Linked DNA regions of Homo sapiens: region 1 is linked to region 2. The links come from fine-mapping of genetic effects on gene expression. A gene starts in region 2. The other region holds a variant in brackets. All regions are shown on one strand. Distances are from middle to middle.

Evidence for each region.
Region 1: its variant is fine-mapped to the expression of CDR2L in aorta (GTEx, PIP 0.96). The same link has a PIP of 0.9 or more in fibroblasts.

What each region holds. Positions count from the first base shown.
Region 1 is chr17:75,017,827-75,023,174 of GRCh38, forward strand. It overlaps MRPL58 (mitochondrial ribosomal protein L58), which reads left to right. Exons shown (of 6, transcript NM_001545.3): 3 at 1,874-1,933; 4 at 2,487-2,569; 5 at 2,662-2,831; 6 at 3,095-3,435. The coding sequence ends at 3,179. Among named protein-coding and RNA genes, the nearest start is that of MRPL58, 7.8 kb to the left of the region's middle. RefSeq lists an enhancer at 2,002-3,201. The variant C/T (reference allele first, on the strand shown) is at 2,568.
Region 2 is chr17:74,984,849-74,990,220 of GRCh38, forward strand. CDR2L (cerebellar degeneration related protein 2 like) reads left to right here and starts at 2,784. Exons shown (of 5, transcript NM_014603.3): 1 at 2,784-3,274. The coding sequence starts at 3,196. It overlaps LOC124904058 (a long non-coding RNA gene), which reads left to right. Exons shown (of 2, transcript XR_007065906.1): 2 at 1. RefSeq lists an enhancer at 2,622-3,123 and silencers at 2,690-2,769, 2,790-2,879.

The sequences.
Region 1 (5,348 bases), 33 kb after region 2:
GGCACAAGAATCACTTGAGCCTGGGAAGCAGAGGTTGTGGTGAGTTGAGATCGCACCACTGCACTCCAGCCTGGGCGACACAGCGAGACTCTGTCTCAGACGAAAAAAAAAAAATCAGTCATTTCTCTAATCCTTCACACATTCCTTCCAGATCTCTCCAGCCCAATTAAAGTAAAGAGACTATCTCGGGTGTGCAGAAGTAGAATCTTTGCAGCATTATTTAGAATAGCAAATAAATGATGGTGTGGCCAGTCGCATCGTACTGTGCCGTGTGCCACGTGAGTGTAGAGCTCTTGACATTCTCATGACGTGGAGCACTCTTTACAATAGATGAATTGAAAGAGGAAGACACAGGAGAGTTTATAAGCTACCATTTGTTTTTTACATATCTATATCTCTGAAATATCTTTTTTTTTTTTCTTTGAGATGGAGTCTCGCTCTGTCACCCAGGCTGGAGTGCAGTGGCCCGATCTCGGCTCACTGCAAGTTCCGCCTCCCAGGTTCACACCATTCTCCTGCCTCAGCCTCCCGAGTAGCTGGGACTACAGGTTCCCACCACCACGCCCGGCTAATTTTTTGTATTTTTTAGTAGAGACGGGGTTTCACCATGTTAGCCAGGATGGTCTCGATCTCCTGACCTCATGATCTGCACACCTCAGCCTCCCAAAGTGCTGGGATTACAGGTGTGAGCCACCGTGCCCAGCCTGAAATATCTATTTCTGAATATCTGTATCTATATTTATATCCCTATCTGTGTAGAGAGATATCTATATCTGAAAGGAACACCCTGGATACAGTGACTGCCTGGAGGAATAGAGAGATAAGACAAACTTGGTGGCTGAGAGACAAGAGTGAAAGACATTTCCATGTAAATAAACCATTTACATAACTGTAAAATTTTTTACCTGTCAAGCATAAGCAAGGCCTAACAGTTACAGCCTGTAAAGAAACAATGAGCCTTTTTTAGATTCGGAGAGTGTATGACTTCCATAGACAGTGCGAGGAAGAGCAGCCAAAGATGCTGGCTCCCTGTGGCCCTTGCTCAAGATGACTCAAACAGAGGCCAGATGACCACAACCCAAGGGACAGGACACCCTGTGGCTGAGGAGCGAATACCATGCTGCAGTGAAGCAGTTTTGTAGCTTGAAGCTGTGCCCGCCTGTAGTCTCAGCTACTTGAGAGGCTGAGGTGGAAGGATCCCTTGAGCCCGGGATGTTCGCTTCAGCCTGGGATGTTGAGGCTGCAGTGAGCCGTCATTGTGCCACTGGACTCCAGCCTGGGTGCCAGAGTGAGACCCTGTCTCAAAAAAAAAAAAAATGAAGCTGTGCCCTAAGGGGTGCATGTGTGTAGGGGAGGAGGCAGAAAGCCTCCTATCTCATCAGAACTGGAGGCGAAGAGAAGTGTCTTGTGACAGCCTCCTAGGGGGAGACAGGCAGGCAAGTGGGCAGTAGCTCGGTAGTAGCTCCTCACCAGCCTCCCACACTCTCATGGATCCCGAAGCGTTCCATTCCTATGAAGACTTTGGTCAGCTGCAGCTCAAGCTTTGGCCATGTGCAAGGTTGCCAGCAATCACCATGGCAGAACTGTTCCCCTGCAGTGGCACGTGTACTTGTTACCTAGTCAGAAAGTGGATTTAATTTGATTTTTCCAAAGGAGGAAATCCTCTTAAAAGCAGTCCCAAGATGAGTCACTACTGCTCACTGGGACCAGCTCTCTGCCACCGTGGTGCCACAGTTCCTTGCCACCCAAACTTCTTGCAGTTTTTGAAATTTTCCCAATATAATACCTTCCCTACATTCCTCAGACACAACAAGACTGCTTTTCATGCCATGAGGTAATCAGTTTTGTGTGTGTACTTTCTTCTGTTTTACAGATCGCTTGACAATATCTTATTGTCGGAGTAGTGGTCCTGGGGGGCAGAATGTGAACAAAGGTACGGGGTGCCTTGTTGCTTTCTTTTGCTTTAAAATGTAGCTGGGAGATGGGCTTGAGGAGCTCTGTGTTTGTGTTCATATGGAATAAAGGGATTTTTCAGCAGAAGCTTTAATACTGCCAGCTTATAATAATCCTCTTTATTCTTTTGAATGTGGTCTGATTCTCAGACATTCAGCTGTGGGTTGCTAGGACTAGGATCGGCTTGTGAGTCTAAACAAAGAGAAATCACAGTTGTGAGGTGGCAGCCAGCTCCAAGAACAGGTTTCTTTCATTCTGGTGCAACCCATTCCCTCCATTTTTTTTTTTTTTTTTTTTGAACCCAGTAAAACTGTAAGAGAAGGACTGGGTGCTTAGTTACTGGAAGTCTATTTTTGCCCAAAAGTGCCTCACTGTCTTTGCGGGCTTGTTCATAGCCAACTTGGACATAGGCTACAATGTACATGGTTAGGTGTCTGGCCTCCCTTTATTTCAGAATGGTCACTGGTCACCCAGGGGTTGATCCTTCCTGGAAGTCTCAGGCACCCATGCTCCCTTCTCCCTTTCCTCCACAGTGAATTCCAAGGCAGAAGTCAGGTTCCATTTGGCAACTGCCGAGTGGATCGCGGAGCCCGTGCGGCAGAAGATAGCCATCA[C/T]GGTAACCACCATCCCTTTCTTTCCCTAGAAATCCCTCAGTGGCTTTTAAACCTTTACTCTGTAGGACTCCAGTTTTTCATTTGTTCTCTGCAGCATAAAAACAAGATCAACAGGTTAGGAGAGTTGATCCTCACCTCTGAGAGCAGCCGCTATCAGTTCCGGAATCTGGCAGATTGCCTGCAGAAAATTCGAGACATGATCACTGAGGCCAGCCAGACACCGAAGGAGCCAACAAAAGAAGATGTTAAACTTCATAGAATCAGGTACCAGGAAATGCCCTAAGATGCTATAAACTGATTTGTGTGGACAAGAGTCTACACAGGTAAGGAAGGGGCAGGGGAGAGTCCAAGGCCGGCCTTGGGAGAAACTCTAGGAAGAGGAGAGGATGCTGACCTGGGACCGAGGCCTGCGGGCTAGTGCCTGCTGGTGTAACTGCTCGGCTTCCCGTTGAGCTCCCAACTCCTCTCACCACTTTGAAAAGCACTGATTGGGCATCTGGGGCTAATTGCAGTCTTTTTGTTTTCAGGATAGAAAACATGAATCGGGAAAGGCTGAGACAAAAGAGAATTCATTCTGCTGTAAAGACAAGCAGGAGGGTCGACATGGACTGAAATCACCCTCTGCAGCTGGGAGGGCTCTTCTGGGCGTCCGGGCAGCTGCAGCTGAGAGGACTTTCACACCATAAGGAGATTTCTGTTTTTCTTTTTGGCTGTTAATGCTTGTCTATAACATTGGAGCCATCACAAGAATGTTCATTTGGAATGAAGGCTGCAGGCACTGGTTGCAGACGTCTTTATAGGCAGTCACCATGTTGTCAAACCTTAATAATGCACCTCATGTATTAGTCACAATAAAAATCAGAACTCATTAGGCTTCCCTTCTCATTCAGAATGCTTCAGAAAACAATTCCTACCTTTTCTCTCAGTTAAATCAGCCGCACAGTTATCGACACAGCACTGGGGAACAGGAAAGGGTTCTGGTGTCTGCTGTGAAAGAACACACAGGCCAGGCGTGGTGGCTCACGCCTGTAATCCAAACACTTTGGAAGCCAAGGCAGGAGGATCACACGAGGTCAGGAGGTCAAAACCAGCCTGAGCAACATAGCAAGATCTCATCTCTACAAGAACTACAAAAATTAGCCAGGTGTGGTGATACATGTCCATAGTCCCAGCAACTTGGGAGGCTGAGGCAGGAGGATCACTTGAGCCCCCCAGGAGTTCAAGGTTGCAGTGAACCATAATTGCACCACTGCAGCCTGAGTGACAGAGCAAGACCGTGTCTCAAAAAAAAAAAAAAACCACCGGGCGTGGTGGCTCACACCTGTAATCCCAGCACTTTGGGAGGCTGAGGTGACCAGCCTGGCCAACGTGGTGAAACCCTATCTCTACTAAAATAGGTGGTGGGCACCTGTAATCCCAGCTACTCGGGCCGAGGCAGGAGAATTGCTTGAACCCAGGAGGGTGACGTTGCAGTAAGCCAAAATCACACCACTGCACTCCAGCCTGGGCAACAGAGCCAGACTCCGTCTCAAAAACAAAACAAAAAGAAACTACACACACAACCAGGTAGGAGGGCTGAGACAGGTAAGTGGGCATTTGAGCCGGGCTATGGAAAAGGCATGGGACTTTCATCAGTAGACGGGAGGCGGACATGCCATTTGAAGGGAACAATGAACACAAGAGACAAAAGAGGCTGAGGTGGAGGGGGTGACAAAGAAGGCAAAGGCACTGAATGGTGGATTCGTGCAGGGTGATCCACCATTGCAGCGGGAGGTGAACCCAGAGAGAGACCGGCTTGATGTGGAGAGCCTTGAATTCAAGTTAAGGAGTTTAGGTTCTTTTATTTTTGAGATGGAGTCTCACTCTGCCATCCAGGCTGGAGTGCAATAGCGTGATCTTGGCTCACTGCAACCTCCTTCGCCCAGGTTAAAGCGATTCTCCTGCCTCAGCTTCCCCAGTAGCTGGGGTTACAGGTGCATGCCACCATGCACAGCTAATTTTTGTATTTTTGTAGAGATGGGGTTTCACCATGTTGGCTGGGCTGCTCTTGAACTCCTGACCTCAGGTGATCCGCCCACTTCGGCCTCCCAAAGTGCTGGTATCACAGGCGTGAGCCACTGCACCCGGCAAAGGTTTTAAGAGATGTGGGTAACAGAAAGCTGTTGGGAGAAAAGCTGAGCGTTGGGAGAAAAGCTGAGTGTTGGGAGAGAAGCTGAGGCAGGGCTTGCATGTCTGCTAGACTTGCTGGCTCCTTGCTTCTAGCACTCCCATTCTCTCAAGCAGCCGTATGTTTCTCCTTCACTTGATACACTTTCTTTTCAACCCCCACATCCTCACCACCTGTTTCTTTGAGCACCAATAAATACCGTGGGCTCCCAGAGCTGGGGGTCTTCACAGCCTCAACACTGGCGATGGCTTCCTGGTGCTACTTTCTCTCTCAAACTGTCTTTTTCTAATTCCTTTGACTCCGCCGGACTTTGTTGCCCCCATGACCTGGTGTTGGGTCTGATCACCTCAACATTCCTGGCTGCCCAACGTGGGGTGACAAAGACCCTGGTGAAGGAACGCTAGAGCGTGTGAAAGCGGAGAACACATCGTCAAAGGACACCCAAAGGCGTCTAAAAGAAGCTCGGCAGGAAAGCTGAGCGCTCGGAAGAACCAGGGTAACAATGGGATAAAGTGAAAGACATTTTGCTTATTTAAATTTATTTTATTATTTTTTTTTTTTTGAGAGGAGTCTTGCTCTGTCGCCCAGGCTGGAGTGCAGCGGCGCGATCTCGG
Region 2 (5,372 bases):
ATTAAATTTGGGGTCATTTGTTACAGAAGCAATAAGAGACAAATACAGGTATTTACTCTTTGTGTCTGGCATCTTTCACTCAACTTTTTTTTTTTAGCCCAAGCCCATGACAGTAGATCATTGTATTTGTACTATATAACATTCCATTACATGAACATGCCACATATTCTTCGTCAACTGTTGATGGACATTTGTGTTGTTTCCAGTGTGGGCGCTTATGAATACTGTGGCTATGAACTTTCTTGTACATGTCTTTGGGATAAGGTATGTGCATATTTCTCTTGCACATATATAGGAATAGAATTTCTGGGTTATAGGGTATGCATGTATAGTGGCTGCTGTGATGTATCCCCAACTCTTTCAGAACGAAAGGACCTATTCCCTTAGCTGCTGGGAGGACCCCTGGCTGGCAGTCCCAGCTGCCAGGGCTCTGTGCAAACTAGTCTCAGCTGAAAAGAACTTATTTGGCCAAGGTCACACATGCCTCCTAGGAACGACCTGTGTCATTCAATGACTGGTTGATATGTAAGGGTGGGGGATATAAAGGCCCCCTCCCCCAATGATACCTGGAATAGCTTTGAAGGGTCACCCTGGATTCAAAGTTCTTCAGGGATCAGAGGAGGCTTTTGCAGAGGCTACATACCAACCCAGCTTCTCCCCCACCAACCCTGCTTCCCTCCCTTTCCTGCAGGTGTTGATCATGAGAGCACTCCCTAGTCAACTTTCTTTCTTTTTTCTCCCTCTAATCCAATATGATTGATATCCCTAATCAACTTCCTGCATGCTAATCTCCATCTCAGGATCAGCTGCCTGGGAACACAACCTACAACAGCTTACGTTATTCAGCTTTCATGGTTATCAAGCAGTCTTTTTTTTTTTTTTTTCCAAGACGCAGTCTTGCTCTATCGCCCAGGCTGGGTGCAGTGGCGCAATCTCAGCTCACTGCAACTTCCGCCTCCCAGGTTCAAGCAATTCTCCTGCCTCAGCCTCCCAAGTAGCTAGGACTACAGGCATGTGCCACCATGCCCAGCTAATTTTGTATTTTTAGTAGAGACAGGGTTTCACCATGTTTCCCAGGCTGGTCTTGAACTCCTGACCTCAAGCGATCCACCCTCCTTGGCCTTCCAAAGCGTTGGGAATTACAGGCATGAGCCACCACGCCCGGGCAGTTTTCTAAAGTGGTTGTCGTCCTATGTATTCCCTCCAGCAGGGTGAGAGAGTTCCAGTTGCTCAACATTCTTGCCAATACTAGGTATTTTTTGTCTTTTTTTTTTTTTTTTTTTTTTTTTTTTTGAGACAGGATCTTGCTCTGTCACCCAGGCTGGAGTGCAGTGGCATGACCACAGCTCCCTACAGCCTCAACCTCCTAGACTCAAGCAATTCTCCCACCTCAGCCTCCCAAAGTATCTGGGACTACAGCCGTGTGTCATTATGCCCACCTAATTTTTATTTTTAAATTTTTTTATAGAAATAGGATCTTGCTATGTTGCCCAGGCTGCTCTTGAACTCCAGGCTCAAGTGATCCTCCCAACCTCGGCCTCCCCAGAGTTCTGGGATTATAGGCATGAACCACCACGCCTGGCCTTTTTTTTTTTTTTTTTTTTCCCTAAAGCCACTCTGGTGATTGGGTAGTGATACCTCATTGTGGTTTTCATTTGCATTTTTCTGATGGCTAAAGAAGTTCAGTACCTTGTTGCATATTTATTCAGTTATTTGTGTATCCTTTTTTGTGAATTACCTGGTCAAATCTTTTACCCACTTTTCTACTGGGTTGCGTGCCTTTTTCTTATGACTATGCAGATGTTCTTTCTGTATTCTGGATACAAGTCATTCGTTGGGTATATCACAACATTATTCAGAGATTCTCAACGGCACCAGCACATTAGGGTCCCAATAAAAATGAGTTACGTGAATGCTTGAGTCCGAACACTCTTCTAAGGAAAGAATGCTTGGACAGATGCAAGTGTGTATAGTTTTAATGGGTATAATTGGATATAGGATATGGGTCCCAAGGAAAGGAAAACAGAACCTTGAATGCAGGTAACACACCCTCAAACTTTGCCACTTTCAGCCTGTGGTTTCTAGCCACAAGCACTTAAACACGCAGTTCCCAAAGGCAACTGTAAATTAGTATTCATTCATTCAAAGAATGTCGATGGAAGGTATCAATGACCAGCATGTTGTTTGTTTTTTGTTTGTTTGTTTTTTGAGGCAGAGTCTCCCTCTGTCGCCCAGGCTGGAGTGCAGTGGCGCTATCTTGGCTCACTGCAACCTCTGCCTCCAGGGTTCAAGCGATTCTCCTGCCTCAGCCTCCCGAGTAGGCATGCGCCACCATGCCCAGCTAATTTTTGTATTTTTAATGGAGACGGGGTTTCGCCATGTTGGCCAGGCTGGTCTCGAAACCCCTGACCTCAGGCGATCTGCCCGCCTTGGCCTCCCAAGGTGCTGGAATTACAGGAGTCAGGCATCGCGCCCGACTGGTGAGCAGCCTGTTCTAGGAAGTGAGTAGCCAGCTGTGAAAGAGAAACAATATTCTTGCTTCCAGGAGATCTAGGAGAGACGACAACTTCTAAAATAGCATAATTTTAGACATGAGACATAAACTGAATAGGTCGTAGGGGGAAGTAGGACGAAAGGGTTGATCAAGCAATTCCCAGACCAAGACACCAGGAGGGTCCCGCCCTCGGCCCCGCCTCCAGCTTTGCATACATCTCCTGATTGGTCGGCGGCGGCAGGCCCCACCCCGCGGAGCCGAGCTCCGCAAGCTGCAGGCGGGCTCCGCCAAGATGCAGCGGCGGCTCCGGTTGTCGCCGGGCGGGCCAGGAGCAGCGCGGACCCGAGCCGGGCAGGGGGCGCCCGCCACGGCACCCGCGCGCTCCTAGCGCCCCAGACCCGCCTGCGGGCCCGGATCCTCCTTGCCACTGTCCCACCCGCCGTCCCTGCCACTCCACCCTTTGTGTCGCCGCAGCCCGGTGCCCCCGGCTCTGCGGGACCCCGGCCGGGCCGGACCCTGGCAAAGCGCCAGGCCCCGCGTGGGCTCCCGGCGAGCGGTTGATGGCGAGGGGGCGCGGCGCGGGCTCTGTAGCCCGAGTTCCCGACGCTGGAGGCCCGGCCCGCCTCAGCCGCATTGTCCCGGGCCGCGCGCACCGGCCCTGAGCTGCGCCGCCGCAGCACCCGCCCGCCGCCCGCGGGGCCATGCGGAGAGCCGCCGGGATGGAGGACTTCTCCGCGGAGGAAGAGGAGTCCTGGTACGACCAGCAGGACCTGGAGCAGGGTGAGCGCGGGGGCGACCGGGACAGGAAGGCGGGGAGCGCCCGGTGACCCCTGTCCGCTTCTCCATTGTTGGGCGCTATCACCCCGGGAGGGGCTGGGCTGGACCGGGCGCGCCCGACTCGGAGGAGGGACGCGTCTGGAGAACCGGGACGTGGAGAGAGGGGGCGCTGCCGGAGAAGACGCGGACCGGACGGGCGGAGACCTGCAAAAGTGGGGGGCGGGGGGCGGTCTTCCTATTTTCCCAGACGACCGGGCATCCGTCATCCAGCTCGCCCACCCCGTCCTGGAGGCAGCAACTGCTCGGCCGCCCCTGGTATTGTTACGGGGCCTGAGCGCTAGCTAGGAGTCTTCTGAGGCCGGGAGGCGGCTCCTTCGTCATGTTTTGCTGGGAGGGTGGCTTGTGTGTAGAGGGAAGTTATCTCACGCCAAATCCAGCAGCACCCGTCCCTGACAGGAATTATGAGCTCTAAGACTCCTAGAAAGTTTCCCTAACTCGCTTCCTACTCAGGGAGAAGTGGTACCGCGTCTTTGCTGGTGAAGAAGCAGAAAGTCAAGTCTCCCATCTGCCTTCGAGAGTCAGGAGTCGCTTAGCCCTCCCCTGCCCGGTCCCCTTGCAAATGGCTCATGGTTTGGAGGGGGTCAGGTTCGGGAATCCCGGCCAGTGTGCCAGGCGAGAGACCGAATAAAGAGGGATACATCTCCGCTGCCCCCAGTTGCCATCTGAGGACAGAAAGGGCGACTGGAAGGGGGTTAGAAGCTGGTGATGAGGTGGCCGAAATGACATCACTGGGAGTGGGGGGTGGGGCTGTTGGGACAGAAAGGAAGAGGAGGCCTGCTGGAGTGGAGTCAGTTCTATCCTCTCCTCCCCTAAGATGCCTCCTTCTTGGATGGTGAGAGCTGGAAGGGGCGAGGAAACATGTCCAGGGAGAAGTGACCTTCCCATGGCCTCCAGCAAGCTGGGGGGTGTGGACATAAGTCTGCTGCAGTTTGTGCCATTGTGGCCTGCTGTGGTGTGCCCACACCCTGGTCTCCATCCACAAGGCTCCAGAGGGCTGGCTTTGCCCTGATGTGCAGCAGCTATCCGGATTCTGAAGCCCCTGACCTACTTCCCCACATGGCCAAGACTGGCTGGCAGATGAGGCTCTGTCCTTGTGCTGAGGACAAGGGTTAATCATAGCCTCAGGGGGACCAGGGTGGGACTGGGGATGCTGGACTAGGCCCTGCCATGGTCTGTGCCCTGGACTCTGGCCTCAGCCTCCTTGGCTGAAATGAGATACAGCTCCTCTCAAACACACACACACACACACACACACACACACACACACATCCACACATTGTGACAACCCCCTCTCCCATCCTGGGCAGTAAATTTTTCCATGAACACCTATTAGGCTCCCCTTAAGTACCAGACACCATCCTGGGAGCTAGGAATAGTCACAGCCCTGACCCTGAAGGTATACCCTGGCAGGTGAAGGAGGCAGGCTTGTAACTAAGTGTAGGTGGCACAGTATTTTTTTCTTTTTTCTTTTTATTTATTTATTTATTTATTTTCAGACAGAGTCTCCCTCTGTCACCCAGGTTGGAGTGTAATGGTGCGATCTCAGCTCACTGCAACCTCCATCTCCCGGGTTCAAGTGATTCTCCTGCCTCAGCCTCCTGAGTAGCTGGGACCACACCTGGCTAATTTTTGTATTTTTAGTAGAGACAGGGTTTCACCATGTTGGCCAGGCTGCTCTCAAACTCCTGACCTCAGATGATCCACCCGCCTTGGCCTCCCGAAGTGCTGGGATTACAGGCGTGAGCCACCACGCCCGGCTGGTGGCACAGTATTATGGGCAGTGGGGAGGGCTTCCTGGAAGAGCCAGGCTTAGAAAGAAAGATCAGAAACTGAGTTCTTGAGAAGATGGTTTTCAGGGAGGCCGATGCCAATATTGTTGCTGTCTCACTTAATTCCTGCACCCCTAATGAAGGCTTTGGCACTGTTCCTGGCCCAGAAATGGGAAAGGAGCCAGGGCATAGAGGTGGGAGATGCGCAGAGATGTGCAGCTTCTTGAGAGAGAGAAGGATCTGAGACTCCAGCTGCGCTGGGTGGCCGTGCT